Homo sapiens: one gene and its partner. The protein of the gene in region 1 purifies or fractionates together with the protein of each later gene. This does not show direct contact. Each region holds a gene or a part of one and is shown in the gene's direction. Other genes may lie near its edges.

The links. Proteins that work in one complex are often made in the same cells at the same time.
Region 2: the proteins of NSMCE2 (region 1) and WAPL fractionate together in Homo sapiens (co-fractionation; one study listed by BioGRID). This does not show direct contact.

The regions. Positions count from the first base shown.
Region 1 is NC_000008.11:125,353,778-125,357,765, forward strand, and holds part of NSMCE2 (E3 SUMO-protein ligase NSE2), read left to right. Parts: intron 1-3,441; coding exon 3,442-3,542; intron 3,543-3,934; coding exon 3,935-3,988. UniProt on the Homo sapiens protein: E3 SUMO-protein ligase component of the SMC5-SMC6 complex, a complex involved in DNA double-strand break repair by homologous recombination. Is not be required for the stability of the complex.
Region 2 is NC_000010.11:86,437,987-86,441,974, reverse strand, and holds part of WAPL (wings apart-like protein homolog), read left to right. Parts: intron 1-3,959; coding exon 3,960-3,988. UniProt on the Homo sapiens protein: Regulator of sister chromatid cohesion in mitosis which negatively regulates cohesin association with chromatin. Involved in both sister chromatid cohesion during interphase and sister-chromatid resolution during early stages of mitosis.

The DNA.
Region 1 (3,988 bases):
GAGGCTGAGGCAGGAGAATTGCTTGAACCCGGGAGGCAGAGGTTGCAATGAGCCAAGATCGTGCCATTGCACTCCAGCCTGGGCGACAAGGGCAAGACTCCGTCTCAAAAACTAAAAAATAAAAAATATATATATATATAATTTTATTGCTGTCAATTTGTTGTTTTTTTTTGAGACGGAGTCTTGCTCTGTCACTCAGGCTGGAGTGCAATGGCATGATCTCTGCTCACTGCAATCTCCACCTCCCAGGTTCAAGCAATTCTCCTGCCTCAGCTTCCTGAGTAGCTCAGGTTATAGGCGCCCACCACCACGCCCAGCTAATTTTTGTATTTTTAGTAGAGAAGGGGTTTCACCATGTTGGTTAGGCTGGTCTCGAACTCCTGACCTCAGGTGATCTGCCCACCTCAGCCTCCCAAAGTGCTGGGATTACAGGCGTGAGCCACCGCACCCAACCTTGCTGTCAAAATTTTGAAAAAATATTTGTATAATTTTGCTTTGGAAATAGGTTGGCTACCAGTAACTGATTTAATTTGTAATTGACTATTAGTTTCAGCAATTATCTTACCATACTGGGAAATTTTTATGAAGTTTATGAAGAAATAAATCCAGCCCTACATATTACTTCCAAATTATGTATTTTCGATTACCGGATCAACAATTAATGAAGTTAACTTCACATTTGCATAGACCTTTAACATTTAGTAATTTCAGTACTATTGTTATTCTGTTTTGAAGCCAACCAATGGTTTTTAAGGTCTCAGACGTTTGTTTAGCTCTCTGAAAAGCTGGAAGCCCCGAGGCACTGCACCTTAATGCCCAGTGGTTAAAAATGCTCTGACTGGTTATTCCCAAGCCCTGAGATCTTCACTGCCTTCTTCAAAGAATAAAAGCTGGTTTAGGGGACAGCAAGCTGGCATACAAATATACCAGTCTACTCCAAGAAGGTGACTCTCTAAGAAAAACAAAGTAATTGGAGGCAGAATCCCTGTGTTGCAATTAATTCACCAGGTTACCTTGAACAAGAGCTCTGCAGCCCTTTCCCTGCCCCTCAGTACAGCTTGAGCATCCCTAATCCCAAAATCCAAAACCCACAATGCTCCAAAATCCAAAACTTTTTGAGCACCTACATGACGCCACAAGCAGAAAATTCCACATCTGGCCTCATGCAACAAGTACACATGAGTGTTAAAAATGCTGCATAAAATTAGCTTCAGGCTATGTGTGTAAGCTTTATATGAAACATAAATGAAATTCATGTTTAGTCTTGGGTCCCATCCCCCAAGATATTTCATCATGCTTATGCAAATATTTCAAAGTCCGAAATCCGAAACACTTCTGGTCCCAAGCATTTCGGATAAGGGATACTCAACCTGTAGTGCCTTTGCAAACAAACACCTCATCTGGCCTAGGTGATGGCCCACAGTCATCAGTTCTATGGAACCGAAAGGTATGCCACACCATCTGAACCAGAAACAAGGGCTTCCTCTCACACATTGAGGAAAGCCATTTTTATGTCTGTATTATTTTGCCAAAATTAAAGAAGGAAGGGAAGGGAGAAAAGAGTAGAGAAGGGAAAGGGAAAGGAGAAGGAAGGAGAAAGGACTACACCATCAACATGTTTAGAAAGCTACTGATCTTTTGGCTGGGCCCCGTGGCTCATGCCTGTAATCCCAGCACTCTGGGAGGCCAAGGCGGGCAGATCACCTGAGGTCAGGAGTTCAAGACCAGCCTGGCCAATATGGTGAAACCCCATCTCTACTAAAAATACAAAAATTAGCCAGGCATGGTGTCGTGCACCTATACTCCCAGCTACTCAGGAGGCTGAGGCAGGAGAATCACTTGAACCTGGGAGGCGGAGGTTGCAGTGAGCCAAGATCGCGCCATTGCACTCCAGCCTGGGTGACAGAGCGAGACTCCATCTCAAAAAAAAAAAAAAAAAAAAAAAGCTATTGATCTTTAACTTCTGTGCAAAATTACAAGTATCTTTTCTTCAGAGAGAATGGCTTTCATGTGAGATACTCCCATCATCCCATTCAAATGTTGTCTATCATCTGTTTTTGGTTTGGTTTGGTTTTTCAGTTGGGGGCCAATGGGATGTAACTCAAAGAACATCAGTTTCAGAAGCAGCTCATGCTCTGTTCAAAGCCAGTCCTGTCACTATCACTCAGCAGTTCTCAAAGTGCAGGCCAGGGATCTCTAGGGTGCTCCAAGGGTCTTTCAGAGTGTCCATAAGGTCAAAACTGTCTTTATAATAATAGTATGATCTCATCTGCCTGTTTCACTCTCATTCTTTTCATGAGTGAATTTTCCCAGAGACTACAGGATATGTGATATTGTGACAGATTGAATGCATACGCAGATATCCAAATCCAACTGGCTGCTATGAAGCCAGACATTCAAGATATTTATAAAAATGGAAAACAATGCCATTCTTCTCATTATGTATGTCTGTGTGTATGGGGGGGGGTGTTCTGGAAATATAATTTTAACTTTTAAAATGTTTATGGTAACACGTAGTGGGATTATTACTGTTACTTTTAATTTTTTGGTTTTTTTTTTTTTTTTTTTTTGAGACAGAGTCTCGCTCTGTCACCAGACTGGAGTGAAATGGCAGGATCTTGGCCCACTGCAACCTCCAACTTCTGGGTTCAAGCGATTCTCCTGCCCTAGCCTCCCAAATAGCTGGGACTACAGGCACATGCCACCATGCCCAGCTAATTTTTGTAGTTTTGGTAGAGATGGGGTTTCACCATGTTGGCCAGGATGGTCTCGATCTCTTGACCTCGTGATCCGCCCACCTCAGCCTCCCAAAGTGCTGGGATTAAAGGCGTGAGCCACCGCAACCGGCCTTATTGTTATTTTTTAATGAATTTTAAATTCCTTAATCTTAATGTCTAATATGTTAAATATTGATAAATATAACCCACATAGAAAAAGCTTAAAAGAGTTCATACCTATAACTAAAAAGTTTGAGAAGCCCTGCACTACCTAATTGTAATGACTGTTTATTGATTATTGCTTTGTACCATGAGCTGTGCAAAGCATACCACATTCTTCATCTCTTTTAATCTTTGCCACAAGGCTGTAAAGCAGAGGCTTTAAAAAAGGGCACCTTGCTAGCCCAGCGTCTCACCACTGGACAAGAAAGAGATCACCAGGTCGGTTCTCTGACTCTGAAGCCACACCCTTGGTCACTTTCTCTATAACTTTAAAAAAGATTCTTTTTAACTGCTCTGAGCCTCAGTTTCCTTATCAAAAATAGTCAGAATGAGGTACCCCGTAGTGTTCTCTGAAAAGCAGAAGAGTTTCTATGCATCCAGTCCTTACATGGGGGCCAACAGCAAATGCTCCCCCAGAAACTCTTCACCTCCCTTCCTTCCATTCCTTCCTTTTCTTTGACGTTAGACCAGAGAGGCTTATCAACTCTCCATTTTCCTCTAGGTGGTCTTCAAGCTGACAGAGAAGCTGACGGAACAGAAGGAGTGGATGAAGATATAATTGTGACCCAAAGTCAGACCAACTTCACCTGCCCCATTACAAAGGTACCGCTTCCTCCTACTTCCCCTGAAAGAAACACGATTCACTTCACAGAGGCAGAAAGGTTCCTGTTTGCTTTCTGGTTTGATTTCACTTAGGGAGTTAAGGAGGGAGTAAAGAAAAGTGCTGGGGGTTGAAGAGTATCCACGGGAGGTTCTTGGGCTGGAGAGAGCTGTCAGTCAATCATGCCCTGAAGGATCCGGGACTAAAGTCATGGCCTACAGGCCAAGTGACAGTACTGCCACTGGATTCCCTGCATTTCCTTATCTAAAGCCTAGTAATTATGTAAAGCCATGAGAATGGGAAGTTAAACATAGAAAGCTCAGGACTAGGACGAAACAGCTACTGGAAGTTGATCATTATCATTCCTGAAAGCCCAACATCTCCTTGATTACAGGAGGAAATGAAGAAGCCAGTGAAAAATAAAGTGTGTGGCCACACCTATGAAGAG
Region 2 (3,988 bases), on another chromosome or scaffold:
AGAAGGGATAGTATGAAACCTGTACTCATCTGGCTTAAACAAGATGGCAGAGTCTAATTTGGGTGATGTCAGTGCCTCACTGAGGTCATCAGAGACTCAGATCATTTCTGTCTTTATTATTTTTCTGTATTTTTTTGTAGAGACAGGGTTTCACCATGTTGTCCTGGCCGGTCTCGAACTCCTGGGCTCAAGTGATCCTCCTGCCTCGACCTCTCAAAGTGCTGGCATTATAGGTGTGAGCCACAGTGCCCACCCCATTTCTCTCTTTAAACTGCTGTCCTCCACATGTTGTCCTCTGCTAGCCCTTATGGTCCCGTGCTGACTACAGCTAGGTGTCTCATCAAATTAAGTAGTGCCTAGCAGTAATAGGGCCTCTTCCTCTATAGTTTTTTTTTTTTTTTCATAGGTGCATTGGCTGGAAATACATATCTTTTTAAGACAACTGTTTGTTTATTTCCCCTGTGGGACCCCATGCCACTCTCACCCCTCACCAGGTAGACTTCTCATCTTGGCCAGCATTGGGTCACAATGCTTTTGTCTGAACCAGTCACTGGCTGGGAACATGGGATTACTGTGAGTGGATTAGATCATCAGGATTCACTTAGGAGAAATACAAATGTCTAGACAATCAGGCTGAGTCAGCCTGAAAGTGAAAGGTTGTGACTATGGGGATAGTCTGCTGCCTTGGGAAAAACAAATATGAAGGGTAAAACTGTTGAAGAAGGGTCCAGCAGAATCATTGTGAGTGTTCTCTTTCAGATGGGGGGTTGGGCATAGGTGGATTATTTTTAAGTGTAAAGTCCATTTGTAAAGCCAGATTTTGAAATGGAAGGCAGATTGTTTTCTAGGAGCAAGGGCATTGAGGGAACAAGAAAGAGTGGAGACCTATAGGAGGGGGGCATTAGTTTCAGCAGGAAGCAGGGGCCATCTCTTTTTGAAGCTGGAGGACTGGAAGAACAGAGTTAATGATAAATGAATGGCTTTATTTGAGCAGGAACTCATGCTGGCTCTGTGTACCTGGGCCCATCTACCCACCCCACGTTTCCTTACTTTAGCCATCTAATTCTTTGTATTGCCTTTTTTTTTTTTTTTCACTTTGTGTATCTAAGTCCTGTGTGTTTTTCTGAATCCATCTTGTCCATCTCTTCCATACTTAACATTTTAACTAACCTAAATACAACAGCCCACTCTGTGTGGCCCCTCTGGGTACCGCCGATTTCAGGATCAAGACCAAAGTTCTCATCGTGGCTCTGGAGGCCCCGCAAGATCTTTATATCCCTTTTTCTTATTTCCAATGACAAGATTTTAAGAGCAAATCAGAAACCCATCACACACAGGAAAGGAGGAAGAGGCAGGCCTCAAAAGCAGTGAAAAAAGGCCGGGCGCAGTGGCTCACGCCTGTAATCCCAGCACTTTGGGAGGCCAAGGTGGGCAGATCACAAGGTCAGGAGATCGAGACCATCCTGGCTAACACGGTGAAACGGTGAAACCCCGTCTCTACTAAAAATACAAAAAAAAAATTAGCCGGGCGTGGTGGTGGGCACCTGTAGTCCCAGCTACTCGGGAGGCTGAGGCAGCAGAATGGCGTGAACTCGGGAGGCGGAGCTTGCAGTGAGTGGAGATCGCACCACTGCATTCCAGCCTGGGCAACAGAGCGAGACTCCATCTCAAAAAAAAAAAAGCAATGAAAATAATATTTAAATTTAAAGATTTTTAGATACTCTGTTTTTTACACACTATAGGTTTAGTCATATTTCAGTCACGTTCTTTCTTACATAATCGTTCTTGAAATTGTGTTATTACCACATATGATTTATCTTGGGCCATCTTTCCCATGCTAATTCCTATTTGTGTTTGCCTGTATCTATCTTGTCTCTAAAAAGAGAATGTTCTTAAATTGTGGGAAATGTTGTGAATTCATAGAGCCCCAGATTTATTTGTTGCCTTGGAGATTATTATGATTAACACCAAAAAGCTAGCTGATACCACAAAATGTAAAGGAAGTTTGGTTTACCTAATGTGTAAGTGAAAAGAGATAGACAAGAAAGCATGTGGTTGTTGCAGTAAATGCTGCTTTGTGGTCTGATCCCATTTTCACTTGCCCTCCATGTCTTCTCACTTTGCAGCTGGTGCATTGCAGTGGTCAGTCTCCTCACTGCTCTTCCTGCTTTGTTGCCCCTCCATTCCTGGGACATTGCACATTGCCACTGGAGCTAACTTACTTCAGAGCACTTACTGATCACGTAGCTCCTTGCCCAGTCTTCCTTGGCTCACAGCCAGGAAGGGGACTCATGACTGTTTAGTGTTGCAAGACCCTGGACTTAAGACTGCTTCTCCAATTTCCAAACCTACTGGACACTTTTAAAATTTTTCAAATAGGCCATGCTGTATCATGCCTTTTCTTTTTGTACCTGCTATATTCTGTTAAAAAATGCTGTCACTGTCCCTCCCATTGCCTCAGAAACGCTGTATGTCATGTTCTGTAGTGTGTTGATAGAGAAGGGTTTGATTTGGATTAATGAGGGGCTTTCATCCAAAATATAGGAGCTAATCATATATTCTCTATTACAGAGGCGTACTTTTCTACTGAGCAGTTCTCCAGAGACACCTTAGCCACTATTTTGCCCACCACTGTGATAGCTTTTGGTGGGAGGATCAGTTTGAATGTGTGTAACTGATATCTTCAGCACATGAGTACTTTAGCAGTGTTTTGATTAGATCTTTTCTGAAGCTGTATTCATCTCATTTTTTTGCTGCTTTCTAATTTTGCGAGTACCCTGGCATGGGAATAGGAAAAAGGGGGTGGGTAGTGGCAAATTTCTGAAGAGAAATATGTCATCTCTCCTTTTTTGCCCCCGCTAACAAAAGTCGAATTGGGAGCTTTTGTGTGTTTTCTTTTTGTTTTTTGGTTGGTTTTGTTTAACCCTTTACCTTGTGTCCCCAAACTTGGGACAGTATACTTTCTTTTGCCCCTTACTACAGGTGAACCTTCCTAAAAGATTTTTTCTTTTTATTCTCCGTAAAACATTTAAAGCATTCTTTAATGAAATAGTTTTTTAAGCAGGTTGTGTAATGTTTTCCATGTAACAGATTGGTTTATATATAGTTTGGCTGCTTCTTGCTAATAATGAAGGGTTTTCTCTCCTGATATTGTCTGAGAATCTATCATAGATGAGGTTAGATTGCCTTTGGAAAGATGCTTCTAGTTAATTCCTGTCCTATATAATTAGTTGAATTCATCTGTGAAGGATGTGAATTTTTCTTTGATCTTTTTATTTCATGAGCAGCTTTGTGAGTACATTCTCAGGTCTAAAGTCCTCACCCTCTTCTCCTATTCCCCCAGGGCCCCCAGTGAAACACACACATACATTAAACAGTGCAGTTTGTTATTTCAGGCCTTTTTCTTTGCATTTATGAAAGTAGGTCGGCATGCTGCCTCACACCTGTAATTCCAGCACTTTGGGAGGCCAAGGTGCGTGGATTACTTGAGCCCAGGAGCTCGAGACCAGCCTGGCCAACATGATGAAACCACGTCTCTGCTAAAAATACAAAAATTAGCCAGGCATGGTGGCACGTGCCTTTAATCCCGGCTACCCGGGAGGCTGAGGCATGGGAATCACTTGAACCCAGGAGGTAGAGGTTGCAGTGAGCTGAGATTACACCACTGCACTCCAGCCTGGGTAACAGAGTGACTGTTTCATTTAAAAAAAAAAAAAAAAAAGTAAATGTGTACACAAATATTTCTTTGTAGCTTTTGCCAACTTTACCTTTCTCCTTTCTTTCTGAGGGTGAGGTAGGAAATCACATGCAGAGTGAGTGTGGAAAGAGAATAAATAACCACGTGTTCCAAGGATCTTAAAAATTTGCACCAAGATGTGTGTCAAAACCAACAACATTGTACGAGGTGCAATCTCATGTTTTCTGCCAGCTGACCAATATTTCTTGCTCTGTTTCCTCAGATCAATGTAACCACTGTGCGGGAATATCT